Linked DNA regions of Homo sapiens: all the other regions are linked to region 3. Evidence: fine-mapped expression QTL. A gene starts in region 3. Each other region holds a variant in brackets. All regions are shown on one strand. Distances are from middle to middle.

Evidence for each region.
Region 1: its variant is fine-mapped to the expression of MKKS in left ventricle (GTEx, PIP 0.95).
Region 2: its variant is fine-mapped to the expression of MKKS in whole blood (TOPMed, PIP above 0.99).
Region 4: its variant is fine-mapped to the expression of MKKS in anterior cingulate cortex (GTEx, PIP above 0.99).

Annotation. Positions count from the first base shown.
Region 1 is chr20:10,672,424-10,680,529 of GRCh38, reverse strand. JAG1 (jagged canonical Notch ligand 1) reads left to right here and starts at 6,531. Exons shown (of 26, transcript NM_000214.3): 1 at 6,531-7,080; 2 at 7,524-7,829. The coding sequence starts at 7,000. RefSeq lists a silencer at 5,909-6,308. The variant A/G (reference allele first, on the strand shown) is at 4,101.
Region 2 is chr20:10,459,847-10,467,952 of GRCh38, reverse strand. The region is part of intron 2 of SLX4IP (SLX4 interacting protein); the gene reads right to left. Among named protein-coding and RNA genes, the nearest start is that of SLX4IP, 29 kb to the right of the region's middle. RefSeq lists an enhancer at 682-1,381. The variant T/C (reference allele first, on the strand shown) is at 4,190.
Region 3 is chr20:10,429,346-10,437,451 of GRCh38, reverse strand. It overlaps MKKS (MKKS centrosomal shuttling protein), which reads left to right and starts at 3,230. Exons shown (of 6, transcript NM_170784.3): 1 at 3,230-3,344. SLX4IP (SLX4 interacting protein) reads right to left here and starts at 2,147. Exons shown (of 8, transcript NM_001009608.3): 1 at 1,999-2,147. It overlaps LOC128706665, which reads left to right and starts at 3,230. Exons shown (of 3, transcript NM_001394148.2): 1 at 3,230-3,344. LOC128706666 reads left to right here and starts at 3,230. Exons shown (of 3, transcript NM_001394149.2): 1 at 3,230-3,344. RefSeq lists enhancers at 1,994-2,043, 2,204-2,433, 3,324-3,383, 5,334-5,835.
Region 4 is chr20:10,719,687-10,727,792 of GRCh38, reverse strand. No RefSeq gene overlaps it. Among named protein-coding and RNA genes, the nearest start is that of LINC01752, 29 kb to the left of the region's middle. The variant A/G (reference allele first, on the strand shown) is at 4,226.

The sequences.
Region 1 (8,106 bases), 240 kb before region 3:
TGTGTGGTCTGTTGAAACCCACCCCCGCGACCCCAACTTCTCTTCACATGAATTTCTGCCAAACTATCCTGAAATAGAATAATTGACTTCTCTAGTTTTTATCTGGCTTTTAAGAAATATTATCACTTCAGTGGAGGAAATAACCATCTTTTGGAAATTAAACTTTCTTCTTTATAGTCTTTCTAAGTTTTCTATGTCTTAGCCTTATTTCCAAAAGCAAAAAGAACTTCTGATATTGCTCTGAAATGATTTCTGAATGATGCTTATGAAAATCTATGTATCAGTAAACCTATGTTATGACTAATATCTAAGGATCTAGAAGTGTATAGTTGTTACTTGTACCAATATTTCTGTGCTGAAGCTAGTATTTCTTTATTTAGTCATCCTTAAGTGCTGTTAGCATAAAGCAATAATAAAAACAACTATTTATCTTCCCAATGGGAAATCAAACCTAAGCATTGCAATGATCCACTTTTGATGTTCTTAATAACTTCTAATTTAGAGGAAGCCATCAGTACAGAAACCACTGGCTTGAGAACAAAAGTGTCAAACACAGACACAGTCTTGTAATTTATTTGGGACCATTAACCTGAACATGAAATATGTAATTCAAAGCTCTGTTATTTTCATGCCATTGGCAGGTGCAATCACCTTTCTTTGACTCTCACATTTATGTATGTGAAAATTTGAAATTTTCTCAGATAACTAAATACATTTAGCTCTCCTTCCTCAAGTTCCAGCAACTACTTTACCTTATTTATTTATTTATTTGAGATCTGGAGGCATCTGTTTGGAAAAGCTGAGTGCAAGTGAGATGAAAGGTACTCACAGAGAAAACTGTATTGTGGTAGTTTCCAAATACTACCTGCTTCTGGAAGTGTAATTTCCAGAACCTTTCAGGAGATGAAAAGGCTTGTAAGAGATCAGTCATACTTCACAATTATAGAAAATTGTTAGTTGCATTTAAATCAGTCGACTGTACAAATGGACCAATTTGGTTAAAAAAAAATTCCATCCCAGAATATCTATAGGTTAAGTCATTCAAGTGCCATTCACAAGAACAGACGACTCACTGTATCAGTGCCAAAAAAAAGGAGGATATGTGAATCATTTACAGTTGTTTTGAGAATGCCAATTTAACAGCAACTTACACGCAGAATTTTTTTTTTCCCTGAAAAGACTGAACTCTAAGAAAAAAGTACATTTTGTACGTAGGACTTCTCCCACACTCTAGCTTCACAAAGAACATTTGATTTTAACTAAGGAGTAAAATGTAAATATTAGTCTCGTAGTTCTGAGATTTTGCATGTAAGTTTTTTGGCGACTTTCTGTGATTGGTTTGGTAAAGGGTATGTGGACACATAATTCTATTCATCCTGATGGTTTTCCACATAATGACTATGAAACAGGATTGGGGCAGGGAGGACAAAATCATAACTACCTGGGCTCAAGATAAAACCAAGACAATGTTTAACATGCGCTCATACAAAATCACTGTTGATAATACAAAAAAATTCACAGTTCTGGTTTCAAAAAATTAATCCAGATCTCTTGTGTACATATGATGAATCTTTGGGAAAAAAATAGCTGGATCTACTCAACTTATGCTTGAATGAGCAAACTTGTGGCCTGGTTGTGGTTGCTACAACTATACCCTGATTTTCAGTGTCTGTTATCTATAGGTTGGTGGTGGGTTTTTTTCCATGTAGAATATCTTGTGATGTGGGAGAATGATGTTGTGCTTCCTTAGGGAGCTGGCTGGACAGGTTCATGGGAGGCAGTAACCTGGCGGGACATGTGAGCTTCACTGGGCTCTGCTGGAAAGGGGCAGAAAGATAACATATCCGTGGAACAGGATTTGTGAACTTGTGTTAACATCTCTGCAAGTTCAAACAAGGAATAAGGAAGATCTTAATGGATATTTTACATGTGCCTTCTCTACAATTTGAACCTAACTGGAATGAAGAATGGGAAGAAAGAACTACTTTCCTTTCGTTCACTCTTTTTTTTTTTTTTTTTTTTTTTTTTTGAGATGGAGTTTCGCTCTTGTTGCCCAGGCTGGAGTGCAATGGTGCCATCTCATCTCGGCTCACCGCAACCTCTGCCTCCCAGGTTCAAGCAATTCTCCTGCCTCAGCCTCCTGAGTAGCTGGGATTACAGGCATGCACCACCACGCCTGGCTAATTTTGTATTTTTAGTAGAGACGGGGTTTCTCCATGTTGAGGCTGTTCTCGAACTCCTGACCTCAGGTAATCCGCCCGCCTTGGCCTCCCAAAGTGCTGGGATTAGAGGCGTCAGCCACCGCTCCCAGCCTCATTCACTCTTAAAATCTACAGTATCACCATTCCTTTGAAACACACTCTCCACTCAGTAGTGCTGAAGACCAGTATTGTGGTGTTGCCCACCATATTCTTGGCACCCACAAAATACCTGGCAAATCAATAACTATCTTCCCCAAGATTTAAGAAGGAAAATTTTCAAACATAGAAAAATGTCGAAGAATTTTGCAGTGAACACCACTGTAACACCTAAATTCTACCATTAAGACTTTACTGGCTGGGCGCTGTGGCTTATGCCTGTAATCCCAGCACTTTGGGTGGCCAAGGCAGGAGGATCATCTGAGGTCAGGAGTTTTAAAGCAGCCATGGTCAACATGGTGAAACCCCATCTCTACTAAAAAATACAAAAATTAGCCGTGTATGATGGCATGCATCTAATCCCAGCTGCTCGGGAGGCTGAAACAGGAGAATCACCTGAACCTGGGAGGCGGAGATTGCAGTGAGCCAAGACTGTGCCACTGCGCTCCAGCCTGGACAACAGGCTCTGTCTCAAAAAAACAAAAAAAGACTTTACTATTTTGCTTCAGCGTGTAACCACCCACCCAGCCATCCTCTCTGATCCCTCTAATTTTGTATGCATTTCAGTGTCAGTTGCAGATATCATTCCACTTCCCCGCTAAATGCTTCAGCACTCATATAACTGGAGGTGAATATCTGTTCACAATTCTTTTTTCCTCTTTTGAACACCTAATGAAATACAATCTTAAATGTACTATTTAATAAATTTTGACAAATGCATACACCTGTGTAGCCCAAACACCTATCAAAAATATGAAACATTACCCCACAATGCCACCAGAAGAGCCTCAAGCCCATCCCAGTGAAGCTCTGCTCCCACCCACCCACCCTCAAAATCACTCTTGTGATCTTTTTTCACCAGTTTTTCCTGTTCTGGAACTCCGTATAAATAAATTCATACAGGATGTAGTCTTTTGTGTCTGGCTTATTTCACTTAACATAATATTTTTTAGATCATCGATGTTACTGCTTATAATAGCAGTTCTCAATAAATATTGATTAGCTTATTTTAACCACAGTGTTGATTAACCAAGGATTACAGTTGATTAGATGTACTTAAATACAGCTAATATAGCTTGAATGTCTCTTATAAAGCTTTTGCAGGTTCAGAACTGCTATATGTTGTTGACTAGATAAAAGTGGGGCAAGTTTTCTGGGAAAAGAAAAAATGAGGCATCCATCATCTTTTTAGAATTAAAGGAAAAGATATCCAAGGATGATGTTTGAGCACACGAGACAGGTCAGATAGTAACTGACTACAAGCCTCTCCCCTTCTCTCAGGTGTAGGTATGACAGCTAAAGATGGCATTTTCCACAGGAAGGTTGTTCTGGAATATTCATTTACACTTGGAGGCTATACCCCAAAGCAGGACAAGCCCTGCCAAGGGGGAATCTCTGTATTTCAGTTCTCTCGGCAGCAGTTCCTCATTCTCTAAGGAGGGGGCCTGACAACCGGCTTCAAGGAAGCAGAGGATAGAGCTTCCACTCAGTGTCTGTTGTGGTAAACGTGACTGGCTTTTTGGGGGAGTCCCAATTATTTGGAAGAGCCCCAACTGAAAATTTTCAAAAGAATTCCCTCTAGCCCACAACTGCCTTCTCTAAAAGTGGGTTCCCAGGCTCAGGAAGGGTGTGGGACTCTGTGCTATGTGACATAAAAATTTTGTGTTTATCAGTGATTTGACATTCTTGTTAGGTGTAATCAGGTAGTTTTCACCTCTCAGAGTTTATATTTTCTTTCCTATC[A/G]GTCAAATGGGCTAAATTCACTGGTGGACTGGAGGTGACACCAGCTTGCATGTGGCCCAGATTGCAACTGGTGGCACCTGCAATCTCAGGTAGCCCTTCTAGGTGAAGCCAGGTGGAGATCTAAACACTTTAACTAAAGGTCTGGCTCCGCAGCCTCTTTCCTGAGAGCTGTGGGGGGCACAAGGCACAGAATTAAAACAGGGTCCGACATAGGGAACTCCAAGGAGTGTGCTCTTTAAGATCACACCAGCCTTTTTCAGCACCATTTTGCCTTTTTTTTTTTTTTTTTTTTTTTTGAGATGGAGTCTCGCTCTGTCGCCAGGCTGGAGTGCAGTGGCATGATCTCAGCTCACTGCAACCTCCGCCTCCCAGGTTGAAGCTATTCTCCTCTCTCAGCCTCCCGAGTAGCTGGGACTACAGGTATGTGCCACCACGCCCAGCTAATTTTTGTATTTGTAGTAGAGACCGGGTTTCACCATGTTGACCAGGATGGTCTCAATCTCTTGACCTCGTGATCCACCCGCCTCGGCCTCCCAGAGTGCTGGGATTGCAGGCGTGACCCACAGCTCGCGGCCCATTTTACTTTTAAACCGTTATTTAGCACCCAAACTCAGGGATACTTGGGAGTAGAAATTAGAACGGGACAGATAAGTGGGGAGACTGGTGTTGATGGAAACCTCAGTGAGAAAAGTGTAGATGGGATTACAGTTGACAACTGGTTGCCTTGATTTAGGATAATTGGGGAAAGGGAGGCTGGGGCACATTGAAACACCCAGGTTGTCGCTGCCTACCCCAGCTGCTAACATGACCAGCTGTAAACTTGCTCTGTTCTTAGAAACCTCCCTTCCAAAACATGGATTCTCCCGCCAGTGCTCAAGATGGGACACATTACCACTAAGTAAGCACTTTTCTTAGGAGCATTTCTTAGGCTGTTAAAATGCCAAGACTCCTAACCATCCTTGGTAGCTTTGAACCTATGTAAAGAGGTCAGTTAGCTGCCCTAGTTTATTCCTCAGAATGATGAGATTTGGCACTGAAAATATTGTTCATACTGAGCCTCCCATCAAATGCAATAAGTAGATAACCACAAATACCCACCCTTTTATGCTCATAACTCAGCATGTTGGAAACTATTTTCCCTTGACCTATTGCCAGCCCATCACGCCCCACACCCAGGAGAACTCAAGCCCCAAACCGGCCGCTGAATAGTCACGCTTTTCTGCAGGACATACCTACTATTAGGGCCAAAACTTTGTCCACCCTTCAAAGGAAGTCGATGTTTCCATATAAAGGTCCCCTCAAATGCAACAGCAAGCCCGTGGGAGAGGGGTTAGCAGAGGCTACGGCCAGCCCACGGGCTTTCTTCGACCTTGATTATGACCAGGAGTGTAGCTGTTAATTGCGAGGCTTGCCTCAAGGTGGAAAACAGTATCGGTTTCCACTGCCACCCCAGAGAAGGCAAGTTCCGCGGCTGGCGGTGCTGGGGACACGGTCCCTCCCAGGCCCATCTCTTGCCACCCAGAGAGCTGCTCGGAGGCCGCCTACAGGTGCAATCCCGGCACTGCGGCCGGGGCGTCGGGCCGGGGAGGGCGTCCAAGCCCACCAGCATCTCCGCCGGCCCTTCCCAAAGCCTGAACAGGGCCCCGGCGTGCCCGCCGCCTTCTACCCCCGGTTTCCCCGCGCCTCTGCCCCGGCGCGGTTTGGATAGGAAGCTGGGAGCCCTCCCAGGCTCCGCAGACTCGGATTTGGGAGGGGGTGGGACGCGGCCGAGGCTTCCCCTCGAATCTGCGGCAAGCCTGGCTCCAGGAAAGTTTTTCAAAGTTCCCAGCAGCGTCTGCCCAGGTCGCCTCCGCGGGGCGAGCAGACGGCGGCAAGCGCGCCAGCCTCGCCGCCGCCTCTGCCGCCAGCAGAGCGCTCTGGGCGGCTCGCTCGCGGGAAGCGGGCCGAACTCCCGGCGGGCAGGCAGGCCCTCCTCCCGGGGCGAAAGCCGCAGCTGACGCAGGCGGTTCGGAAGGCGGAAGCTGCCCCGCTCCGACCGCTCAGTCAGCGCCGCGGCGCCTACACCTGGGGCCCCGACGCGCGGGCAAAGGCGCACGGCCCGGGGCGCCCGAGGGGGCGGTCCCCGCTGGGGGCCTCCAGGCGTCCCTGAGCAACGATCCCTTCCAAGTACCTCCCCGCACTCTCCCTTCCCTCCTGGCCCGAAGCTCCCGAGGGCGGGGGTTGGTGTGGGGCCCTGGTTCTTCTACGCCGCCCTGAGCATCCCGCTGCCCCCAACCCCTTCCAAGTTCCTCCTCGCACTACCCCCTCCCCAGCAACGTGAAGGGGAGGGGCGTGCCCAGGGTGAGCACGCCCTCTCATGAATATTAATAAGCGCGCATGCGCCCTGCCCGGCGTGCTGGGTAGAGGTGGCCAGCCCCGGCCGCTGCTGCCAGACGGGCTCTCCGGGTCCTTCTCCGAGAGCCGGGCGGGCACGCGTCATTGTGTTACCTGCGGCCGGCCCGCGAGCTAGGCTGGTTTTTTTTTTTCTCCCCTCCCTCCCCCCTTTTTCCATGCAGCTGATCTAAAAGGGAATAAAAGGCTGCGCATAATCATAATAATAAAAGAAGGGGAGCGCGAGAGAAGGAAAGAAAGCCGGGAGGTGGAAGAGGAGGGGGAGCGTCTCAAAGAAGCGATCAGAATAATAAAAGGAGGCCGGGCTCTTTGCCTTCTGGAACGGGCCGCTCTTGAAAGGGCTTTTGAAAAGTGGTGTTGTTTTCCAGTCGTGCATGCTCCAATCGGCGGAGTATATTAGAGCCGGGACGCGGCGGCCGCAGGGGCAGCGGCGACGGCAGCACCGGCGGCAGCACCAGCGCGAACAGCAGCGGCGGCGTCCCGAGTGCCCGCGGCGCGCGGCGCAGCGATGCGTTCCCCACGGACGCGCGGCCGGTCCGGGCGCCCCCTAAGCCTCCTGCTCGCCCTGCTCTGTGCCCTGCGAGCCAAGGTAGGAGCCCTTCTCCGGGCCTCCCTCCCAGCCGTCCTCTCCCTCCCCTCGCGGCGCCCTGGGCGGTTGAGCCCCGCGAGCAGGCTCGGCAGCCCTCGAGCGCCCGACTCCTCGCCCCTGCGCCCGAGCGGCTGCACCTGGGCTGAGCGCGCCAACTCCCCCACGGGAGCCCCTGCCTCCTGAGGGTGACCCCTCCAGGCCGGACAGGGGCGCGTTCGCTCCGCTGTTGCCCCCCGGGAAGTCGTCGGATTTCTTCCGCACTCGTGCATTTTTTTTTTTTTTTGCCCCGGAATCATGTTGAGTCCTTGAACGTAGTTTCGCAAAATTATTTTCACTCGGCGAGGAGGGCTCGTCGGGGCGGGGAGTGGGAGGGAGTCGCCACCTCTATACTCGAAGAAAACAGCTTTCTCCCGCGCTGACCTACCTCCTTCCCTCGCCGGCAGGTGTGTGGGGCCTCGGGTCAGTTCGAGTTGGAGATCCTGTCCATGCAGAACGTGAACGGGGAGCTGCAGAACGGGAACTGCTGCGGCGGCGCCCGGAACCCGGGAGACCGCAAGTGCACCCGCGACGAGTGTGACACATACTTCAAAGTGTGCCTCAAGGAGTATCAGTCCCGCGTCACGGCCGGGGGGCCCTGCAGCTTCGGCTCAGGGTCCACGCCTGTCATCGGGGGCAACACCTTCAACCTCAAGGCCAGCCGCGGCAACGACCGCAACCGCATCGTGCTGCCTTTCAGTTTCGCCTGGCCGGTGAGTGACTACTCGGGAAGGAGGCCGGGCGGAGCCTCACACCCGCGCCTGGCCGAGCCCTGTTATCCCTTGCGAGAGGGATTTAAAGGGCTTTGGCTTGAAACTAGGCGCTAACTGGGGAAATCTCTAGGGGTGGCGGGTGAGGGAGCCGGGACACTATAGTTAGATCTCGGCTGGGGTAGTCGAGGTGGGTCCCATTCCTGCTGCTATTTGCTTAGTGCACAAAAGTGGGGATCCCAGAGGGTTTATGGGACCAGGCTCCTAGGAAGGCCGGTGT
Region 2 (8,106 bases), 31 kb before region 3:
TTTATCTATTATCACATGAGGAAAGGACTGGGAAAATGAAGCCTAGAAAACTGGGTGTCTGGCCAGAAAGGCAGAGAGAACTCTTAGAAAAAAAAAATTAATTTCAAGTCCAAGAACTTTGTTTCAAAGTCATCAACACTCAGAGCAGATGCCTTACAGAGTGAGAAGGTATCTAAAAGCTCTAAGCCTGAGATAAAACTCATTGGGTGACTGCTGGTGTGAAAACTTTTACTAATTTTATTTCAATTCTTTCACGAAATCAGCACATACTTACTTAAATACAGCTTCCAGCATGAGCAAAGCAATAGAACAATGATACTGAATGGGAAAACAGCATCCTATGTTAGTTTGGGCATAGCATCAACCACTCTGCAAACTCGCATTGACCCTGTATGTCTTTAAAACATAAAGCTCTTACAAGGAATACATGAAATTAAGGAGGAATTGGAAGATGCAGACTTTAAGTATCAGGAGAAGAAATATAGAGGTACTTCTTTCACTTTAAAAGTTTCACAGGGACAAATCTCTGTAAAATCATTCTTCGGGACAAAGGTTGCACACTCCAAAGTTATTTCCAGTAAGGAATATAACCATTTAAAATGTTTGTGATTTATTCTGTTTAGGCACTTCAGTTTTATTCTTTCTTAAAATGTGTAGAAAAATCAGTACCTAGAACTCAATTGATATGAAAATAATTGCATAAATCTTTTCAATGTGATACACAAAATCAACGCAGCCATTTTCAAATGAGCACTGATAATAGTCAGTACCACGTTCCCATTTAAGTAGACGAAAAAACCTAGGACACAGGATTTAAGTGATTCCTTGAGGCAAACTAGCAAGACAAAAGCCTAGTGATTACCCATTTACCATTCAACTGTCTCTTTCTCTGAAAGTTTAAAGAGCTGCTCTATACTTTTACTATAAAGGGGAAATCATTGTCAATTCTTAGGCTTATTTCTCTTTTTGTGGTGTTCTAAGGAATGTGAAGACTAAGGTTAACTGAAATTCAGAGAAGAATATAAAACTATAATTGCTCTGAAAGAGTGGAAAGAAAAACATTGATAGTAAAGATGCAGGGAGTTCTTTTTTTTTTAATAAAATCTCTCCTTTCCTCCTAAATATTAATAAAACCTTAAATCTTTTACTTTAGATTCAGAAAACGACTCAAGCTTCCCACCCCTAAATTCCAGCCCTCCCCTCTCCCAAAATAAAAAGTAGACAACCCCATCAAGAGCAAAAGTAAAAGCGTTTAGCCTCCTGGAATGGGTGGGAAGAAAGAGGAGGGGATCATTACACATTCCCTGTAGAAGACAAAGCCAGATGCACATTCCAGAGAAATCTGGCGGGTCCGAGTTTTTCCTTAAATACAGACTGGCCTGTCACTAAGCCAGGCTCTGTAATCTTCCCAGGCTGCCACCGCTAGGGAAGCCAGGAATCCCTTCTAATTAATCAAGCCCTCCCAACAAAAATTTTCCCACCCACAATAAAGTAGGTTGGGGGGGAAGGGAAGCAGCAGAGAAAGCTCTGCAGCCAAAAGAATTCTAGACTTTAGTATAATACCTAACTAATCCAAGAAAACAGATGCAGGAAGCAGAGGAAATTATCTACAGAGACACACAATGAGGTAGGAAACTTTCACAGCACTGCTCCGCTGGGACCCAAAATTTAAATTCAAAATCATAAGTTAGAATTATTATTGAGAGCGACCCTGGCAACATTCTATACTTTTTCAAATGCCTCTAAGGCAGCGGGTGGACACATAAACTTTCCTGAGGTAGACACCATGTGTATCACTTGACACTTTTAACAATAATTTGATATTTGGATTTCTTTTTTATTTTACTAAAGTTTTGTTTTAATGGATAAACATTCATGACTATTACATTATGTGTCCATGTCTATTTCTTGCAAAGGAAATGGCTTTACCTTGGCCTTGCTAACTTACCCCACACCTGCAGCCAGTTTAACCCAAGGTAACTTCATTGAATGCTTATTCTGATAAGGTACCAGGAGGTAGGAGTACCAAGGATACAGCAATTTAGATCTGTGTTGGCCAATACAGCCGATACTAGCCAGTGGTGCCTACTGAACATTTGAAATGCAGCTAATAGGAATTGAGATGTGCTGTAAAAGATATATTTGTAGGCCGGGCACAGTGGCTCACGCCTATAATCCCATCACTTTGGAATGCAGAGGCAGGCGGATCACTAAAAGTCAGGAGTTTGAGACCAGCCTGGCCAACATGGCAAAACCTCATCTCTACTAAAAATACAAAAATTAGCTGGGCATGGCGGCATGTGCCTGTAATCCCAGCTACTTGGGAGGCTGAGACAAGAGAATCACTTGAACCTGGGAGGCAGAGGTTGCAGTGAGCCAAGATCTTGCCACCGCACTCCAACCTGGGCGACAGAGCAACAAGCGAGACTCAATCTCAAAAAAATAGATAAATAAAAGATATATTTGTATACATATTCTATACATAAATCAGTGTGTGTGAGTGTGTTTATTTCAGACTTTGCAAGCAATAAGGTCTTTGTTTCAACTACTCAACCCTCCACTTCATTGTAGCATAAAAGCAGCCAGGGATGATATGTAAACAAGTGGGAGTGGCTGGATTCCGGTAAAACATTATTTACAAAAACAAGCAGCTGGCATGTGGGCTGTAATTTGCAGATCTCTGGTCTAGATCTTTTCCCTACCCTAAAGAGTTTATTATTTTGGAAATTTTAAAACACTGGGGTGGGTGCAAAGCTTGGGTTTAAGATTGCTATGAAGCCTTGGGGAGATGCGCCTGCTGCTACCACTTCTTTCAGTTAAAATAAGAGTCACTCACTGAAGTACAGGACATACCTCCCTGCTAGAAGCTGCAGTAGCCCAGAAGTCTATAGACCCTGAAAGTTATACTTCCAAGGATTCCTACATCTCATGCACTACTGCCATTTCCTGGAAGTCTGGCCTCAGAAGAGTCTTCAACTCTTGAAAGAGTTCAAGAGCCAGCTGTGCGGTGGCAGTGCCGCCTGTAGTCCCAGCTACGTAGGAGGCCAAGTCGGGAGGACAGTTTGAGCCCAGGAGTTCATGTTCAGCCTGTGCAACATAACGAGATCCTGTCTCTAAAAAATAGTGATTAAAAAAAAGAATTCAAGGCCAGAACCACAGCCCTTAAAAACAAAAAAAAAGTATTCATATGCAGGAAGGTCAGATGGGTAAGTCGTTTGCATGAATAATTAATGCCATTCCAAGGGCAGTCTTAGAATAAACAACCCAGATGAAGTGTCAAACTATTTGGTGTTCATCAATTTTTCTGTTACTTTGAAACCCTGCTCTAACCAAGTACTTTTCAACCCAGTCAAAAGTGGCTGCATCTATGTGAAAAATTTGCATAAGTTAATTAATTCCTTTTAAATGTTATTTATTATTATTGTTTTTAATTTAGAGATGGGGTCTCACTATGTTACTCAGGCTGCTGGTCTCTAACTCCTGGCCTCAAGTGATCCTCCCTCCTGGGCCTTCCAAAATGCAGGGATTACAGATGTGAACCACTGTACGCAGCCTACATTTTATTTATGCACTTAATTTTTATATTAATGCATAGACACATATTAAAACGACATATCAAAGTGAGGTCTCAAGCTGGGTGTAGTGGTGCACATCTGTAGTCCCAGCTACTCAGGAGGCTGAGGCAGGAGGATTGTTTGAGCCCAGTAGTTCAAGATCAGACTGGGCAGCATAAGGAGACCCCATCTTTCAAACAAACAAACAAACAAAAAAACAAAATGGCCTCTTCTGCCTCATCCAGCCCCCTCTCTCACTCCAACTCTCACTCACCATGGGCAACCACACTGAAACTTAGCTTTTTGATCTGGTAATTTGCCAACATATTTCTAAACACTATGTTTATCCTACGAATGTCTTATTATTTCAGTTTTATATACTTTATGTGGAAAATGAAGACTTAATCCTTATACCTGCCCTCCCACATGTTTCCTTCCCCAGCCTTCCAAAACTTGGAGTTCACAATATTATGAAATGTAACCTCTGTTCAAAGCTGAACCATGCAGGAGGATCACTTGAGCCTAGGAGTTCAAGGCCGCAGTGAGTTATGACTGTGCCACTGCATTCCAGCCTGAGCAACAGGGCAAGACCCCATCTCTATAACAAGAAGAACAAAAAGTTGAGCCACGTAGTA[T/C]ACTATGCTTAATTTCCTATCTTGCACAATCTTTTGTTTACTGAGAACTGAGGGTTGCATCATTTTTCTTTTGTTTAGTTTTCTATATTCCTATGACTAAATCATTCCCATGCTACCTGACAGGCCTAAAAAAATCTCTTCTCAATGCATTTAAATACATGATGTATTTTATTCATTTCATTTTTTGTTGAAGAAATCTTTCATGGAACCCTCTGTCTTCTTCCAATAGGACTGGTTACTTTGGTTGCAGTTCAGAAACCAATACCCAGAAATATAACACTTTGACATGCTAAACTAAAAAAGCAGCAGCAAGGTCTCTCTGACCTCCTCCCCTCCTCCTCTCAATCCGTTATCTCTCCCAAAGCACAAGATGAGGCTCTCCGCTGAAGCTCTATTATCTGCCCAGAAACTGGATACCCAAAGAGGAACACAATTGCCTTCCATATTCCCTGAAATTATCTATAGCAGAGAAGACTAAAGAATGCAACCACACAGTGGACAGGCATTTCAACTAGGTATTATCTGCTTCTCGGCTCATTCAAATTCTAAAGAGAATCATTTACAAGTTAATTTCTGTCTCTCGAGTCCATTCATTTCCCCTAAAAATCAGTTACCCCTATATCTCCCAGTTCCCTCTCCCCAACGAAGAGGGTATTAAGGGTCAACCGTCTGGCTCTTTGGGTTTTCTTTTCTTGTTGTTGTTGTTTTTAGAGACAGGGTCTCTCTATGTTGCCCAGGCTGAACTCAAACTCCTGGGCTCAAGCAAATCTTCTGCCTCAGCCTCCCCAAATGGCTGGGACTACAGGCATATGCCATCACATCCAGCTTTTGAGTGTTCATATTTTGTATGACTCCCATGCACTTGTGTGCACATAATAAATTTGTTATGCTTTCCTTAGTTAACTTATTCTTTTGTTACAGGAGTGCTGACTGTGACCCTCCATGATGGGGAAGAAAGGATCATACCCTTTCCACCCTTACACTTTCTAGGCAAAATACACAGTAATCATCAAGGAATTTGGTTAGGCCCTCATCTGACTGGTTCCCTATTTCCTGGATCCCATATCTGATTCTTTCTCTGTTTATTCCCCTATTTTGGAAGACCACATCCTTTCTAAAACAGTGTGCATCAGAAGGGAAGTGTTTTCTACATTCTGCATCCTAAAAATAAATGTCTCTATTCTACCATGTGACTGAAAGTTGGGCTGTAAAGGGAATTCTTGGTTGGAAACCATTTTTCCTAAAATATTAAAGGTATTGTTCTACTGTCTCCTAGTTATTGCTGTTGAGAAGGGTGTTCTGATTCTTGATTCTCTGTCTGTAATCTGTTTGCTTTTTAAGTTCTTCTCTAAATTCCCAGTGTTCTGAAATTTTAGGATGATATACCTTAGCACAACTCTTTTTCATTGACTTTATTGTGTATTCACTCACAGCTCTTTCAAACAGGAAGTTTGTATCCTCCACTTCCAGTAAATTGTATTGCATTATTTCTTTCATAATATTTTCTCAACCATTTGTTTTTCTTTCTAGAACTCCAATTTTTCATATCAAGACTGAAACTCTAATTTTCTTGTGGTTTTCTCCTCAATTTTTTAATCTATTATCTTTTTGTTCTACTTTCTGGGCAGTGTTCCTTGGTGTTTGCCCCATACTTTATCATATTTTCATTTATATTATGTTTTTAATTTATAAGAGCTCTTTCTTGTTCTTGGGAATTTCCCTAGTTCGTAACATCCTAACCTTGTTTTGTGGTTATATGTAATACCTTCCTTTTTCGCTCTGAGACTCCATCTCTACAAAAATTTAAAAATAAAAAAAATTAGCCGAGAGTGGTGGTGCATGCCTGTGGTCCCAGCTACTCAGGAGGCTAAGGCAGGAGGACTGCTTAAGCCCAGGAGGTCAAGGCTGAAGTGAGCCATATTCACACCACTGCACTCCAGCCTGGGCGACTGAGTGAGATCCTGTTTCAGAGAGGAAAAAAGCACTCTCAAAGTAATAAGGAAAAGAAAAACAGGGAAAGGCAATTGGCCACTGGCCACACAGCACTCACACAAGACTTCAGGAGCAGTGTTCCCTGGGAAGAAAGCATGTCTGACAACATCAGTAGCAGGTGTGCAGGTCTCCTGCTGCTCATGATACCCTGGAGCAGAGCACAGAAACCTGGCAAAACTTCATGTCAGATATTTAAAAAGGGATCCCCATGCTTGAGTCACGGAGCTTCTAAGTAAGGTACATGATTAGAGAACCACTGGTCCCTAGCCTGTCAGAGGCAGAAATACAACCACAAAGTGATGTGCAGAGCCTTCAATACGATGTGTCAGAACCCTGTCCCTATCCCTATTATGCTAGCCTGATACTCACGGTTGAGGCAACTCCTCTGCCTGCCATGATCTGGAAGCTTTGTTCCAAGCCTTGCAGGCATCACTATAAGATGGGATAATATGGTAGCAGAATATGCCATTTCCATGGGTATGGAACAGACCCATCTCTTGCATAATTAGGGGCCTCACGTCCAAGTTTCATGGTTGACCAGGATGGTCTGCCCTACTTGGCCATAGCCAGTTTCAACAGAGTTTTGCAAGAAGCCCAGCCCTTTTCTGAGCAGACAGACTACCAGGGCTCAGTCTTGGAAAAATTAATCTCACTCCTCTAGCATATAATAAAGTCATATGAGACTATCCAACAAACTTCAAATAAAAGTTCTCTATAAGAAGAGAACAGAGAGAATTAGGAGAGGCAGAGAAAATGGTCAAGAATTTTCCAAAACTGATGACTTGAGCCATCAAATTGAAGACATACATTTTATCCCAAGCCAGAATAAAAACAAGACTATAACTAGAGATTTCATAGTGAAACTATAGAAGAGCAAAGACAAAAATAAATCTTAAGAGCAATCAGAGAAGAAAGACAGATAACCAAGAAGGAATCAGATCAGGCCAACAGTGAACTTCTGAGGTGAGTAGTCTCCATAGACGCACCCCAACAATTCTCCCAATCCCTGTGAGAAAATACTGCTTCTCAAGTCAAGAGTGCAGCTTCCCCTGACTCTAGGCTGACCCTGTGAATGCTCTGATCAATGGAAGTCCACAGAAGTGGCATCTGAGATGTCTGCATCTAGGCCTTCAGAGGACTGACAAATTATACTTCTTTCATTGTGCAAGTCTTAAGATGCTACCCCTCAAAACTCAGCCACCGGGGTAGATGCCCAAGCCATGCAGAACAGGCACGTGGATGAGAACTAAAGGACAACAATTAACAGATCCAGCAATGATTCCAACCAAAGCCAGCATCAACTGCACTGAGTATGCCATCTTTCATTTTCCACCTAAGTTGAGTCCCTAAGTAGAACTGCAGCCCCAACCAACATCAAAAGGAAAAATTACTCAATTGATGCTAGGCAACCTACAGAATCAGGAGAGATTATAAAATGGTTCGTGTTTCAAGCCACTAAGTTTTAAGGTGGATTTAAGCATCAATACATAATGAAAACATTTCTCAGTAGTAATAAAAGATGCCAGAAGAAAATTAAAAATTATCTTTAAACTGTTGTTGGAAAATAATGCTCAACCTAGAATTCTAAAACCAACCAAATATCTTTCTAGGGTGAGACCAAATACATTTTTAGACACACAAATAGTGAAAGTTCATCACTTACATGCCTTCACAGAAAGAAATACTAAAGAATATATATATGGATACAAAAAACAACTGAAAGCAATGAAATTTATAAATATGTTAGTAAATCTAAATAAGCACTGACTTGGTTAAAAATAAGACAGAGCTATAATATTACATAGTATCTAATCTGGCCAACTAGCTATTGTAATTTATATTTTGATGTTTTGAACTTGCACTTATGGTAAGACTAGCATACAGAAAATGTCCTAAAGAAACACCAACATATATGAAAGCATCTC
Region 3 (8,106 bases):
GTTTTCTCATACTCCTTACTGGCTCTTTAATTTCATCCAGAGGGTCTCAATCTCTGCAGATACAGGGCTGGAGTCTGTTTTTAAAGCTCCCAGGTGATTGTTACGTGCAGCCAAGGCTGAGAACTCTTGATTTAGTCTTCTCATTAAAGAAAGACAGAAGGCAGCTGGGTGCAGTCGCTCATGCCTGCTTTCCTGCACTTTGACAGACCAAGGCAGAAGGATCGCTTGAGCCCAAGAGTTGGAGGTTACAGTGAGCTATGATCCCACCACTGCACTTCAGCCTGGGCAACAGGGTTATACCCTGTCTCAAAAAATAAAAATAAAAGAAGTAAAATAAAATGGGAAGACAGAAGAAAGCAAGGTGCCACAAAAAGCTTTGGTAAACCAAGGCCCAAGGTTTTCCAAGTCAGTATTGAACTGCTGTCCACATGCAAACTTTTGAGTTCAACTTTTAACAAATTAAAAGTACAAATATGCATACAAGATATGAGAAAGCAAGAAGCACAGTAAACAACTTTTAAAAAAAAAACGCAAACCAGTGGTAAATTGGATGCTAAGACTTACAGAGAAAACCCTACATTTCAGATGTTATAACAGAAATTACATATAAGTATATTGGGATGACAAAATCTCTTTTCAACTTTTTGGAAAGCTAAATTGACGCCCTAACATCAAGTCAATGAACTAAAAGCACAGAAAAAAACCTGTCAAATATCCATTGCATTTAGAACATGCAATAAATTGATAATACACTGTGAATCTAGTTAAGAAGCACGGGTTGAACAAAGAATGGGCCAGGCCGGGCGTGATGTCTCAGGCCTGTGATCCCAGGACTTTGGAGGCCAAGGCGGGTGGATCACCTGAGGTCAGGAGTTCGAGAACAACCCGGCCAACATGGCGAACCCTGTCTCTACTAAAAATACAAAAATTAGCCGGGGGTGGTGGCGCGCGCCTGTAATCCCAGCTACTGGGAACGCTGAGGCAGGAGAATTGCTTGAACCCGGGGGGCGGAGATGGCAGTGAGCCAAGATCGCGCCACTGCACTCCAACCTGGGCAACAGAGCGAGACTCCATCTAAAAAAAAAAAGAAAGAAAGAAAGGGCTGTATCTTTAGCCCATGCCCTGAATCAATGTTCCTTGAACTTTAAGGTACACTTCTTGAGGAAGATTCTGATTCAGCAGCTCTGGGGTGAGAGTCATGAAGTGTAATTCTAACAAGCTCCCAGGGATGCTGATGCTGGTGGTAGGTGAAATGAACTTGGAGCAACAAGGCCCTAAGTAACTGGAATATTAGTTTTAACGCTAGCCAACTGGCTTACAAATATCGTTATGTCTAGGATCCAAGAAGTAAGTGTCAATACCATTAATTCCTACACCCGGCCAAAAAAATTAAAAACTAAAAATAAAAAAAAATAGTTCAGGGGAAGGAGAAAGCAAATACTTGTTTATACAGTCTAGCAGTGCTAAGAACCATAAAATACTGTTATTTGTCTCAACCTAGTAGATGTCAAGGTGATAAAATGTAGGCTCCATGAGTTAATGGATTTTTTTTAGCTAACTCCTGAATCCTTATGGCCTAGCACAAATTAGGTACTCAAGAAATGCAATGAATAAATGAATGAATGGGAAGTATATACAAACGCAATCTGTATTTACCTCACATCTCCAAAAATGTCTGGGAAGGGGGAGGTATTTGTACTGCTGGATGCAGGTAGCCATGATTTGATACAAATACCTGGCCCATCTACTGCATTCCCTTTGTGCAAAGACAGTTAACTTTCCTGAATAATATCTCCACCGTAATGCCCATGCTCATGGCATCCTGATGTTTAGCAACTTTTTGGCTTTTTGAAAACAATGAAGAAAGGTGGAAGTACAGGGAGAAGGATTCGGAAAAGTCTCAAAAAATCAAAGCCAAAAACCAGGAGGGAGGAGATGGGCAAACAGTTCAGTTCACTTGAAGGAACATCTGAGGTTGTCAGAGGTCCATGTGCTTACCTATGATGGTGGCGGGGTTTGGGCTCGGGCTTTATATGTTTTGTTACTGTCCAGGGTCACTGGCGGAGTAGTACCTGGCTGTGGAAACTCGGACTACACAGGTAGCCGGAACTGCAGCCAACCTTCAGAAGCTTAAGGGAAGCACTTTCGCGCTTACTTCCTCCTTCCCAGGGTCTCCGCGCGCGTTTGGGAACTCAGCCGCCGCCCAAACACAAAATGATCTGGGCAGCTTCGCTGCAGGATTGAGGCCACAGCCAGGATTTAAGATGGCAGCGAAACACTTCGATGGCCCGTGGAATCTGCCCAAAAGAAAAATGGCCTCTGTTCAGAATATCGCGGCTTTCAAAGTGGGCCCAAAACAAAAATGGCGCCGGACGCAGGCTATTTTTAAAGGCTGGGACCCCAATGACTCTCATTAGCAAATAACGTATCATGGTAACTCACGGTGCTAGGCAGTTGAACTGACCGAGAGAAAAAAAAACGCTTTTCTGTGGTGTGTTTTCTTAACATTGGAAAATGACTAGCTCAAGAATGGAACATATATTCGGTGCGAAAGATTGTGAGAAAGGAAAGGTAGCTTTCACAGTGCCGGATAAATTTTAATAAAAATAGCCATGTTTGAACATAACTTCCTATATGTTTTTTAATGTTAAAAGAGAATAAAAGTTTTGTCCTGGAACCCAGAAGCAGGATGGGGAAATGCCGGGTGAATTATCTAATCTGTGAAGAGTACGAGCTGCGAAACTCCGCACTTCCCTGTAAGCCCTCAGGAAGGACTGAGGGCGGATGCTTTAGTAGAAGGCAACTAGCTCTCACGGCGCATGTCCGTTTTCCAAACCCGATCCCGGGAGTTACGGGAGAGTAAAAATCCTGATTTTCCAGACAACCGCACAGAGAGGCGGGATACTGGCGCTGAGCGACAAATCCAAGCGCTTTGTAATTGGTCATGTCAGGACAGAGAGCAGAGCGCAGTGGACTATTTCTTTCTTTCATTCAATAAATCATTGTCAAGCGCTCACCAAAAGGCAGAAGCTGTGCCATTTTGATATGTTATTTAAATTTTATGCGTTCTTTTAAAATTTCAGTTTCAACAATTTGCTGGAATATACGCTGAATAAACTTCGCTCCCCGTTTTTTCCGGTGACGGCCGCTGTTGGCTGGAGCTTCACGGAAAACCCGGAGAAGCGGAGTGGGGGCGGCCCGGCGTCGACCGCAGAGCTGCGCGTGCTCCGTGCCCTCGCGCGACGCGAAGGTTGTCGGGATCCGCGGCAGCAGCGGCTGCTTGAGATCTGTTTCTGGGGCCTCTGGCGGTGGCGGCCTGGGGCGGCGCGACGGCTGGTGCGCAGGTGAGAGCGCTGGGACTCTAGGTGGAAAAGCCCGCTTTGTGTCCGGCCGAAGAGAGGGGAAGGGGCTTGTAGGCGCCTCCCTCTCCACCCCCAAAGGTCACCGGTGTCCTCACTGAAGGATATTTGAGGGCGGGGACAAGGAGGAGGCTGGCTCTCTGTAGGAGGCGAAAGACCGACCTCTGAAATAGCTGCCGATGGTAAATGTTGCGGTCGGCACGGATGCGGGCGGCGAGGAGGTCTTCCCGCCGGTGGGGAGAGCTGGAGGAGTGGCGCCTCACCACGCTCCCACCTGCGCTGCCGCCTTCTACGCCGAACCTGTGACTCCCCGTCCCCTCCCTCGCTGGGAGGGGCCCCGTGTGCCCCTGACTGTCTGGAGGGTGCACGGTGTACCCCAGGCTGTCGGGAGGTGGGGGCCGCCCTCCGACGGCGTTAGAGACGTTGTGCAGCGTGGCCCTGCCAGCTACGTGAAAGCAGCCGCGGGGCTTGCAGGGCTGTGGACCTTGTAGGGATGACCCTCTAAGGTCATGCTCGTCTTCCTCCCCGATAAGACCATACCCAAATCCTGTTGCCGTTTCAGAGACTCAATATGACGGTTTCATTCATTCATTAACATCTTCAGTTTATCCATAAACAGATATACACGTGTCTACAGCACTGCCGAGTTAGTAGATACGGCAGTGACCAAGAGGGACTTGCACGGTCCTGACTCCATGTTCTAGTGATGGGGGAGAAACAATACGCTCCCTATCCATGAGTTCCGCATGTGTGAATTCAACCAACTGCGGATAGAAAATATTTTGGGGCGGCGGGGTTTGGTGGCTCACCCCTGTAACCCCGCACTTTAGGAGCCCGAGGCGGGCGGATCACTTGAGTCAGGAGTTTGGGGCCAGCCAGGCCAACGTGGCGAAACCCGGTCTCTGCTAAAAGTACAAAAAAATGAGCCGGGCGCAGTGGCGCACGCCTGTAATCCCAGCTACTTGGGAGGTTGAGGCAGGAGAATCGCTTGAGCCCTGGAGGCGGAGGTTGCGGTGAGCGGAGATCACGCCACTGCACTCCAGGTTGGGCGACAGAGACTCTATTTAAGAAAATAAATAAATAAAAACATTCTGGGGGAAAAAAGATGGTTACATCTGTACTGAACACGTGCAGACCTTTTTTCTTGTCATTCCCTAAACACTGCAGTGTAACAACTACTTACATAGCATTTAACGTTGTATTAGGTATTATAAGTAGCCTAGAGATTATTTAAGGTACATGGAAGGAGGTGGCAAGTTGTGTACAAAACTACACGATTTTTTTTTTTTTTTTTTTTTTTTTTGACAAAGAGTCTCGCTCTGTCGCGCAGGCTGAAGCTGGATCTCTGCTCACTGTGCAACCTCCGCCTCCCGGGTTCAAGCAATTCTCCCTGCCTTAGCCTCCGGAGAAGTTTGGGATTACAGGCACCCGCCACTGCACCTGGCTAATTTTTGTATTTTTTAGTAGAGATGGTGTTTCGCCATGTTGGCCAGGCTGGTCTTGAACTCCTGACCTCAGGTGATCCACCCGCCTCGGCATCCCAAAGTGCTGGGATTACAGGCATGACCCACGGCGTCTGGCCTACTACACAATTTTTAAATCAGGGACCTGAGCATCTGGATTTGGGTATCCATCATGGGTCCTGGATGCAATCCCCCAAATACTGAGGGGTGATTGCACATTGATATTGAGCAAGATGTTTCTAGATTGTCCTAGGTTGGGTTTCCTGAGAATCAGACTCTGAGGAGATTTAGAGGCAGGACATTTACTAGAGAAGACTTTTTGGATGATTACCAAGGAAGAAAGGAAGCAGGATTGGGCAATAGAAAAAGTTAAGCTGCAGTGAAGTCTCAAGGATGTTCTCCACCAGTCCCACAGGAACTCTAGTGCTGGGTTGGCCCTTCAAAGTTGAAGAGAAGGGCCAGGCTTTTATACCCCTTGATTGATCTGTCGTTAGATGTCTGTTTCCCTGGAAAGGGCCTAACTTCAACTCTCTTCAGCCAAGTCAATCATGGACGGAGGCTGGCAGCCGAGGTCTGTCTCAGCTCTTCCAGGAGCTGGGGAAATAAGCCTTTCATTCCTTAGGGGGGTCAGGGTGGCACATCACAGCATTCATCACAAAGGTAGGGCTTTGAAGGAATCACGTGCTAGAGAATAATGGGGAGGGAGAGGGAAAACACTTTAGGTTGAGTGCTGAGAGAAAGGCTCTCTGAGTAGGTGACATCTGAACTAAGAGCTGAAGCAGAAGAATAAGCCATCCTCTGTGGACCAAAGGGGACAAGATTCTCTACTTTTCTGCTACGCACTAGGAATATAGCAGAGAAGACAAGTGGCTGCTACCTTCTGTTATCGTGGGTGGCAGTGACTAGTTTTTCTAGATCTTGACTCCCTGCCGTAACTAAAGATGGAGTAAGTAAAAATGGATTGAGACTAATTCAGAGGAGGATAGAGGAAAAAATGAGAACTATGATTTTGAAAAATGAGTCAACTTGGTAAAGACTTTATGCAGTTTTTTGTGCGGGTTTGGTTTGGTTTGGTTTGGTTTGGTTTGGTTTGGTTTGGTTTTTTGACCCTATACAGCATTGAGTTATGTTTTATTAAGATTGTCCCATTATCTTCTCAAACCTGTATTCTCCTTGAGGACAAGAATCATGCCTTACTCTTCTTGGTAGTTCCCCCCTGAGGCTAGTAGTCTTGCTAGCACCTAATAGACACTAAGTGAGCATTTGGATAGAATTAATCTTGTACATATTTGAAGTGAAAATTGCTAATCCCTAAATATTGTGAATGTGGGATACATGACTGTGTTTGGATTTGTCTTTACAGTATTTCCTCACCTTATAAGTTGGAACCCAATTTTAGTCAAAATATTCGATGATAATATATAATTGCTTTGATCAAGCAGGAACCTCCAGGGGTGCCTATTTTTATATATGATTCGTATAAGATAATATACTCCCAATAAAAGTAATGGCTGCCGTGTATTGAGCACTTCCCACATGCTAGGCACTGTACTAAGCTATGAATGTATATAGTTCTCTTCATAATGTGGCCCCCTATTTCAGATCATGACATTGAGGCAGGAGAGAAGTAATTTGTCCAAGACCATAACTAATTTGTGGTGGAGGTTAGACTTTGATTCTCGCCATTACTCAATGCTTTTGCTCTTATGTAAAACGTTGTTTCAGACCAACAGCGTGTCTGAAAATGTCGACCAAGTTTCAGTCATTGTAGGATTCTCACATTTGATCACTTGGCTGCTCTATTAACTGTTATTAGAGAAACATACATGAAATTTTTCACCGTCTTTGCTTCTTTGCTCTGTATCAGTTTTCTGACTTCCTTCACAGCTTTCCTGGCTCTCACTTTAGAAGCTTGACAGTTATCTGTCCTATAATATCCTAGAATCTAATTACCAGATTCACTACCCTAGTCAAACCCCAAAGACCTCTGAACCTCTCTGTTGAGACTGGGTATTTTTATTCTTAGCTAACTAACTGAAACTGCCCAGAGAAGTGGGCCTTCCTTTATGGGGACCACTTCCCTTAGTTTGGGCATTAATTCTAATCCTCTCCAGTTCTTGCTATACTACAGGTTAATTCCAGTAATGTTTTTTTTCTTTTTGACATAATCAAAATAATAATAGCTAACAATTACTGAGCCCAGACAAAGTGCCAAGTATTGTGATAACTGCACAGCAAGCTTATGATATGGATGTTATTATTCACATTGTACACACAATGGAACTGAAGCACAATGAGATTAAGTGACTAATCCAAGGCCACACAGCCAGTTGTAAAGTGGTAAGTGAAGATTCAAAGCCAGGTGGTATGAGTCCACAGCTCATCCCTTAATCACTACATGACAATGCATTCTTACAAAAATGATTTAAAGTGCTTGACTTTCTGAAAACTGGTAGGCAGGATCTAGATCCTAGTGGATTTTTCTTTCTGCTGTACTAAGAAATTTAGATTTCACTCTAGTCAAAAATGTCACTAAAGGCTTTTAAGCAAAGCAGGAATACAACCAGATTTGTTTTTGTTTTTGTTTTTTTGTTTTTTGTTTTGCAAGATGGCTATATTAAAAGTGTAGAGAATGGATTAGTGGATGTAGACTAGAACAGTGGGTCTCAAACTTTAGCTTCAGAATTACCTAAAGAATTAATTAAAACACAGATTACTGGACCCCACCCTAGAGTTTCTGACTCAGTAGGTCAGGAGGGGCAGCTTGATAATTTGCATTTCTAGTAAATTCCCAAGTGTTGCTAATGGCACTGTTGAGAGGACCACAGTTTGAGAACTACTGGAATTGAAGCAAGGAGGTCATGTGAGGGCGCGAGGGTCTGGACTGTGACCCTAGGGAGGAGGGATTATGTAAAGAAACACTTATGTCAAATGGCAGGATGTGCTGAGTGAGTTGATGAGGAGCATGAGGAAAAGGGCAGAGTCCAGTATATCCAGATTTCTGAATTGAATGGCTTAGTAGATGATGCTTTTTGTTAACGAAACAGGAAATCCAGGTGGAACAGCAGTTTGGGAGGGAAAGAGGACTTATTTTTATATGAGATGAATTGAGACTATTTGTGGGGACGGTTAGTTCAAAGGTGTACAGTAGCAGTTTATTATGTGGGTCTAAGCTGGAGATGAACGTGTGAGAGCCAGAGTGGATGCATGATCATAGAAGTTTGGGGATTGAATGAGACCGCCCAGGAAACAAACACTACCAAAGACAGATCTTTGATAAGGAT
Region 4 (8,106 bases), 290 kb before region 3:
ACAGTCTGCTTTTATCTAGTTGACATACTAGAGTTCCTGGACAAGATTTCATATGAGGGACCAAATATGAAATGACTGCTGTCAGCAAATAGAAGCTATGCAAGATCTTTAAGAGGATCGGGTGAGTCAAGAGATCAGATGCCAAAAGATGAGTCTGGTGGCCGCAGTGTTTAAGATGGATTAGAGTGAGGAGAGTGCAAACTTGAGAAGATGAATTAAGAGGTTAGTGCAACATCCCCAGGTAGAGGCACTGGGGGCCTGAACTCAAGTACAGCGGTGTGGGAGGGGAGGCCAGGCAGTTACAAGCAGCACTGAGGTCAACCTTCTGGGCCTTGGAAAAAAGTGGAATACAGTTGAAGCGTTTGAGCCTGGGAGATGGGAAATTGTCACTACTAATAGAGGACACAGAACACAGGACAAGTTTGGAAATTGAGAAGCCGAGTTCAATTTGGGAAATATTAAGTTTAAGGTCCTGGCAAGATTTCCAGTTGGCAAGCAGCGTGGTAGAAGTGTCTTGTCGGAAGTTGGGAAGAAAAACTCACTGGATAAACACACACATGAGAAATGAGCACATGAGACAGTTAATCATATACAAGAGGGTATTTTTTAATAAAATGCAGAAGCTCATTACATTCCAGATTCCACTTACTGTTTTGCCCATTTGCTGCCTTGGTATTTCTTCCTGACCCCGAATAGAACAGGTGCACAATATTTGGTCCCGGAATTCTGCTCTTCCTGTTTCTTATTCTTCTACTCAGAGATCTCATTTATTACCAACTTCAAAAATCCACTCCAGTCCCATTCTGCTGCTCACTCCATAGCCCCATAGTTCCAACTGCCTGGTAGAGATGGCCACCTGACTTGGGCATCTCAATCCCCAACTCAACACATACAAAGATAAATTCATCGTCTCTTCTCTTCCTTAATTGGTACTTTCTCCAAACGTCTTTATTTCTTTGAATAGGGACTTTGAGCTGTGGTGCCTCAGACCTTTTCTAATTCTTGACACAGCCATCCTAGAATAGCCGTTTTCTGGGACATTGTTTCCCCTTGTATTAGGCTGTTCTGATGCTGCTAATAAAGACATTCCCGAGGCTGGGTAATTTATAAAGGAAAAAGGTATAATTCACAGTTCCACGTGGCTGGGGAGGCCTTACAATCATGGCGGAAGGCAAAGGGGAAGGAAGACACATCTTAAATGGCAGCAGGCAAGACAGCATGTGCAGTGGAACTCCCCTTTATAAAACCATCAGATCTCATGAGACTTATTCACTATCATGGGAACAGCATGAGAACGATCTGCCCCCATGATTCAATTACCTCCCACCAGGTCCCTCCCACGAGATGTGGGAATTATAGGAGCTACAATTCAAGATGAGATTTGAGTGGGGACACAGCCAAGCCATATCACCCCTCCTCAAAGCTTCTGGGAGCTCCCCAATGTGGACAGAATAAAAGCCAAGGTTCTCAGCCCAGGTTTCAAGGTCGTCCACAAAGGCCATCAATGGCCATTCTTGGGTCCACCCCAAATCACCTTTCTAACCACGGTTTCTACTGCCTCTCTTCTCAACCCTGCATGGAGGACACAAACCTGCACCTGATACTCAAGCATGCTTACCTTTATTTCTTCCCTCCTTCTCAAGTATATTAGCATTCCTTCCTTCTGGCAGGGAGCATGACTCCCCAGCCGATTCCTCATTTGACCTGTATCCATTCTCCAGGCCTTGTCAAAAGTCCTAACTTGTCCTGAACCCCCTCCTTGTCCATTCTGGTGGACAGAGAACAAAGTTGAGCTTCCTCTACCCTCACTAAACAAACCAGATGGTGTTTGCATATCTGTTTCCTCATGTATGATATGGGGGTTAAAACCTTACCTATATCATAAGATTTTTAAATTAAATATGAGCTCAATAAATTATTATTATGATCACTAGTATTATATGTTAGACATTGGGCTAGGCATTTAAGGATGTAAGTAGGAATACTTACATCCTTGGCTTTTCATGGCAAAACATGCACAATCCCCACCCTCTTTAAAAACTCCATAAAGAACCAGCCCTTTGCCATGTACTTCAAACATTGTTTCACTAATAGTGATTTTCTAGTTTTTAACTCTTGAGAGCAAGTAACTTATCATCTTAGCTTAATTATTCATGGCCCTGAAATAAAACAAGAACATCCTTCCAAGTCATATTTTACCTCAAGGAGCTCAAAATCTAATGGGAGAAAAAGCAGAAGTGAACAGGAGAGTGCTTTGTGCCTACTGGACTGGGAAGAGGAGATACAAGTGATATGACACTTCTTCGCTGTCTTGTCTAATTATCTTTTCTAAGATGTCAGGTATGATTCTTCTATGTGAATGTAAGCCTTGGACAAAGTATTTTAGAATATTGTCCTGAAGTAACTCCTAGGAAAGTGTATCTTATTTCTCTTTCTTGTGCTTTTACCTTTCCCAGAAGACTAGGTACTAAATAATTATATGTTCATGGGATAAACGTTTTTATTCCAAGAGTTGGAGATTTTTGCTCATCTTACCATACTTAAAATTATAGTGTAATTATTAATAGTTCAATATTTAACACCTTTTACTGATAGGTCCTCACCCTTATGTATCTGCATATCACACACATACACACACACACACACACACACTCATCTCTAACTGCCCAATTCACATGTACCCAAAGACATTTTAAAAGCACTCAATCTAGAGTCAAAAAAAAAAAGAGAGAGAGAGATTCTAGATTCGAGTCTCAGCTCCACATCTAGAGCAGCGATCAAGCGTGTAAATTATCCTTGCCAAGTCTCAGTCTACTCATCTGTAAAATGGGTACACCAAAATGTGGCTCCCGGTCCTGATTGATCATAGGACTCTCATACGGGGAGACTTGTTATTCATATTCCTGGATTCCAATCTGAACCTATTAGAGCAGAAGTTCCAAGGGAGGCCTGGAATCTGTATCTTTAAAAAATCACTCCAGATGATTAGGTTAATTCATGAAGTTTGAGGATCCCTTTAGCAATTCTGATTCCCCTCACATTAAAAGGCCTCCTCCAAGAAGCCTGGGATATCCTGGAGCTAGGATCTGAAGCAGAGAGTGTATAACTGTTCTAAGACAGAAGCTGTAATAACAGGGTCACTCCTCCTTGTTTTCTGCTCAGAAACAGCCTTTCTTTTCACTTCCCAACTGCGGTTTCTGATTAACATAAATATTTCAACCATTTATAATTCTTTCTCATTGATGGCTAAGGGCAAAGAAAACACTTTGATTATTTTGATACCTCTTAAGACTTAAAGCCAGCTTTGAACATGTGACACAAAATCTCCTTCATCAGATAGTATTGTTGCAGTTGCTGAATTCAGTTTAAATCAGATGGGTATCTTCAATTGTTTCACTGACTGAACTGTGTTATTTTAAAATCTTATTGCATCCTCCCTGTTTACCTAAAGATATGTTTAAGGAAATATACTCAGCTTTACTGACTTTGATCAAGGCTCTTCTATAAAATGCCACTTTGCTGGTGCTTTAGCTCAATTGACTTAAGAGAAAAAATTTTCCCACTGTCCCCGGGGAGCTCCAGGGCTCTGCTTTGCCAGCTCTGGAGAATGAGTTTTTCTAAAAGAACAAAACTACCTACAAGAGCTTCATGGACTGAAGTTTCCAAACTCTGAGCAAATTTGGGGAAATTTGAAGAAATGTGTGTGCTCATCAAATATGACCATGCACCCTCCCCCTATATCAAATGATTCCATGCCTATAGACAAACTAACAAAATCATCTAAATTCTATCAGAAACTAACTTTCTGTTAGAGATTCTGTACCTTTTTTTCCCTGCAGTTTCTGGCACAAGAAACCTGCTCCCAAGGAGTCCAATTTTCTGATAAGGGGTCTCAGCCTATGGAATCTGACTGCCTGGCTCCATCTTTTGCTAGCTACGTGAATTTAGGCAAGGCACTCAAACACTTTGTATTTTAGTTTCCTCTTCGGAAAAATAATAGTGCCTGCTTTTCCAGGTTGCTATGAGGTTTAAATTAGATATTACATATAAAGGGCTGAAAATAAATCCTACCGCATAGTAAGTACTCCACGAATGCTAGCTTTTATTTCTCCTTGCAGGGTTATAGCATTTGAGGCAAAATAAGTAAAAAAGAGTCCCCTATGCCCTGTCTGTCCCACTACCTCAGCAGCAGACAGATGTCTTCTTGAGTGCTTTGCCTTTGTCT[A/G]TACCAAGAAGCCTGTTCAACCAGGTGAAACAACTGCCCTGGTCCATACATGCTTCTATTTTCTTCCTCAAAGAGAACTTGGAGTTCCCCCATGCTTGGATGGCAGTCACTCTTAATCTTTCTCTGCTTTCTTTCCTATAGCCTAAGAGATACCACTAGCTGGGTCTCAAGTACTCTATTCCAATTTGCCATTGTGAAGTCATCTTAATAACACTTGCACACTAGCAAGCTCAGAACAGCACTACTTCAGTTTGTCCCTACTGCTGCCATTCTGGAAGTGAGAGATGCACAAGCCAAACTCAGGTAACCTCAATCTCTAGCATCTAGTAGACACTCAATAAATACTTGAGTTATTAAATCAGTCCTCTCAACCCTTCCCACTAAGGCATTCAGACTGTAGCAATGGTAGTCTAAAAACCAATCCTTCTCTCTAAGAGTGCCCTTCCAAAAGGGAAAGGAGGGAAAGAAGAAAGAAGAAAGAGAGGGTTGGGATTGTGCATGTTTTGTCACAAAAAGCTAAGGATTGTTATAGCCATTGGGAGGGAGGACATAAATATGAAGTAACAGACATCTAAATAAATTCCATCTATTCTGCAAGATTCAAGCTTTTATTTGATGTAGATGAGACAGTAAAGAACCTGATGTCTTGACTAGGGAAACAACAAGAGAACTACCCACGACTCTAGATGAGTTACTTAGCAAGGGAAACAGGCTTTTCTAAACAGCTTCTGCCCCAGAAAGGCTTAAATAACATCAACTCCTTGGCCTTGGGTCCTTGCATGCTCATTTCTTACTGAGCAAGATGGCTCTGCATTAACAAAGACAATCGAAAACCAGATCATGCAGAAAATGAATTGATGGCAAAGCTTCCAGAATGAAAAAAAAAAAAAAAACTTACCATGAAAGTGACAAAACCTAAAATCTCACTGATTTAAAATATGGGATTTTGAGATTAGGACAATTCTTACTAAAATATGACTTGGAAGGGTGTTCTTGTTTTATTTTAGGGCCATGAATAATTAAGCTAAGATGATAAGTTACTTGCTCTCAAGAGCTAAAAACTAGAAAATCACTATTAGTGAAACAATGTTCGAAGTACATGACAAAGTGTTGGTTCTTTATGAAGTTTTTATTACATCCTGTTCACTGGAATACTGAAAACTCAGATCGTTCCCAGAACCTATTATCATGGTCAGAATTCTATGTTCAGAAAAAAATGTACTGAACTTTCAAAATTTAGTTCGTATCTGAAGGGAGGGAGCTGGGAATGAACAATTCTACCCAGGAAAAATAATATGAATTATTCAGAAGAAAATTCTCCATAATAGCTTAATCTTCTCTGCTTCCACATATTTGTAACTGATATAGCTTCAGGAAGTAAAGAAGTTACACCCATGCTAGTTCCAAGTGAAAGGGCCCATGGCATTCTGGGAGTGGTCTCCTCTTATCAGTGTTACTTTGGGGAACACAATAGCTTCTGGGCAATGCCCATTATTGGGAGATCAACCAAATTGCCAATTTTCGACCCTAAGATAGTGGTTGAATTAGCGTAAAAATCTCTAGTTATAATGTATTTTATTATTCTGAAGATATTAAAAAAGGGATGACTTTTAAATTTCAAAATATCCCACTAAGAAAGCTTTCTAATTATTAATAAAGGTGGTATAGACAGCAAGGAAAATGACATAGAAATGAAATTTTATTTATGTAGAATTCACTTATTGAATACTTTTTAGTCTGATCTATGTTCTAGACAGAAACACAGCCTGATCCTTTTTTCTATTCTCTTTCTGTTTCTCATGGCTGTCTCTGTTACCAGGGCTGTGCCATCAAAGGAAACCACATATGCTCTTGGCCTGGCTAAACATGGCACGGTTGGCACGTGGATAAAGAAGGTCACTGTGGAAGCATGAACAGAAACAGCACAACATTTTGCATGCAAAAAAAAATGAGTCACAGATACCTTAAGAATATATTACTTAGAGAAGAGAAAATGTAAACGGATTACACATTTGGGAAGGCGCAAGGGGAATAAATGGTTAAAGGAACTGAGATTGGCCCCACAGGGTGGTTGAGTAATATATGGAGTGTTATTAGATCAAAGTTCTCTATCTCCAAAGAAAAAACAACCAAAAATTGGCTTTAAGTCAGTCCAGAAAGATGTCAGCTTAGCTTTTAGGATGAATTCTTGATGTATAAGTTGATATGTATCATATTAGGTTACAAAGAGAAGTCTTGTAATCTCCCTCCCAGGAGAGGCATGAGACAGGAAAAGTCCAGTAATGCGCACGGCCATGTCAAGTGGCCGATTCACCCAGAGCCAGAGGAACCCACCAGGAGACTTACCAAGGTCCTTAGAGGCTCGGGATTTTCTCATAAAACAAACACGAGGCTACAGAAGTGACTGCTCTGCCTCTTGTTCAGCAATTTTAGCAAATTCCAAATACTTTTCCTTCATACAAATGAGGTTAACAGCAAGAACAGATTTTACAAGGACATTTTACAACCAATCAGCACCTCGTGGAATGAGATAAATACCTGCTTTTTTCCTTAATATGGTAAATGGCTGGACATAGTTTAAAATAGAGCCAAAGCTTGGTGCAATTAAAAAAAATAGGTGACAAACAAGAGACATGTGCAGGGCAAGCATGTAAATAGCTTTTGGGGAAGAAAGCTAATGGATCTAGTGTTCACACAGGGAAATTTCACTAGACTCTTTAACCAAAGTCAATCTGCCACGTTGAGGAAATGCAGGATCAGCCTTGATACTTTTTGTCCCAAGGGAAAGTTGCCTGGTTGCCAGCAAAAAAAGAGAACTATTTCCATTTCTGTTCTTGCTCTGAACAGTGGGCTGAGAAGAAATTGATCTCATGCGGAAGTCTACAAAGAGAAAGCCTTCTGTTCACTTCTTTCTCAGTTGAGACTTGCTCCTGCCAAACTAAAAAGACACACATGGAATCACAGACTCTTACAAATAAAAGAAATTTAGAAAGCTTGCAATCTAAAACACACACGCATCTCAAAACATACCACTAGCTAAAGAAGGCCCGTAGCCCAAAGAATATTTTTCCTTTTCTCACAAGAAAGTTGCAGTCTAGGTTAGAAAACCTGCTGGAGGGCAGTCCCATCTCAAGAACGCAAGATGGTTGCCCCAGTTCACTCTGCACTGAAGTGAAACCTCCAGCTTCCTCCCCAGACAGGTCCTCCCCAAAGAGATCACAGCATCTCTGTTCAGAAAGAGATCTCAGTAATCTGTCTTAATTGCTGAGCTTCTAAAAAGCTTTTGACTCCGCCACAGTTATGCCTTAAAAACCCCCACACCCACACTCAGAAATTTTTGTGTTTTAGCCATAAATTTTTTTTAAGACAGTTGAATCAGAAACCTTGGGACCATATTGCTCTGCCAAATAAGTCATGTACGTGGAAACTGAACCCCCACTAGAATGCCTCAAGTTGTGGCTAGGTGTGTCACTGATCTCTTCTCTGTTTAAAAAAAAAAAAATCCTTTCCTTCTGTTCCTTTACTTCTTTTCTAGGTACTAAGTAAATAAGTAGAGAGTTTTGTAGTCCCCAGCTTGTACAGCTAACCCCTCATAAAACAATTCATATTGTATAAAATAACAATGCTATCCATTGAAATTAAAATGGAAAAATTTTAACTGTTACTCAGCAAAGACAACAAAGGTGTCCCCTTTCAGAGTTGATAAGAGATCATGAGATTGAAACTCTGCACAGCACTTTGAAAACTAGAAGCCCTAGTCTTAGGACCTCATTCTTTTAAAGCCAATAGCTTTGAAAGCTTGCTAGATCTGAAACTGGCTCCATCCTATGTTATGTTTTTGATCTACAACACTGTGAAACAATTACTGTTGTAATCAAATA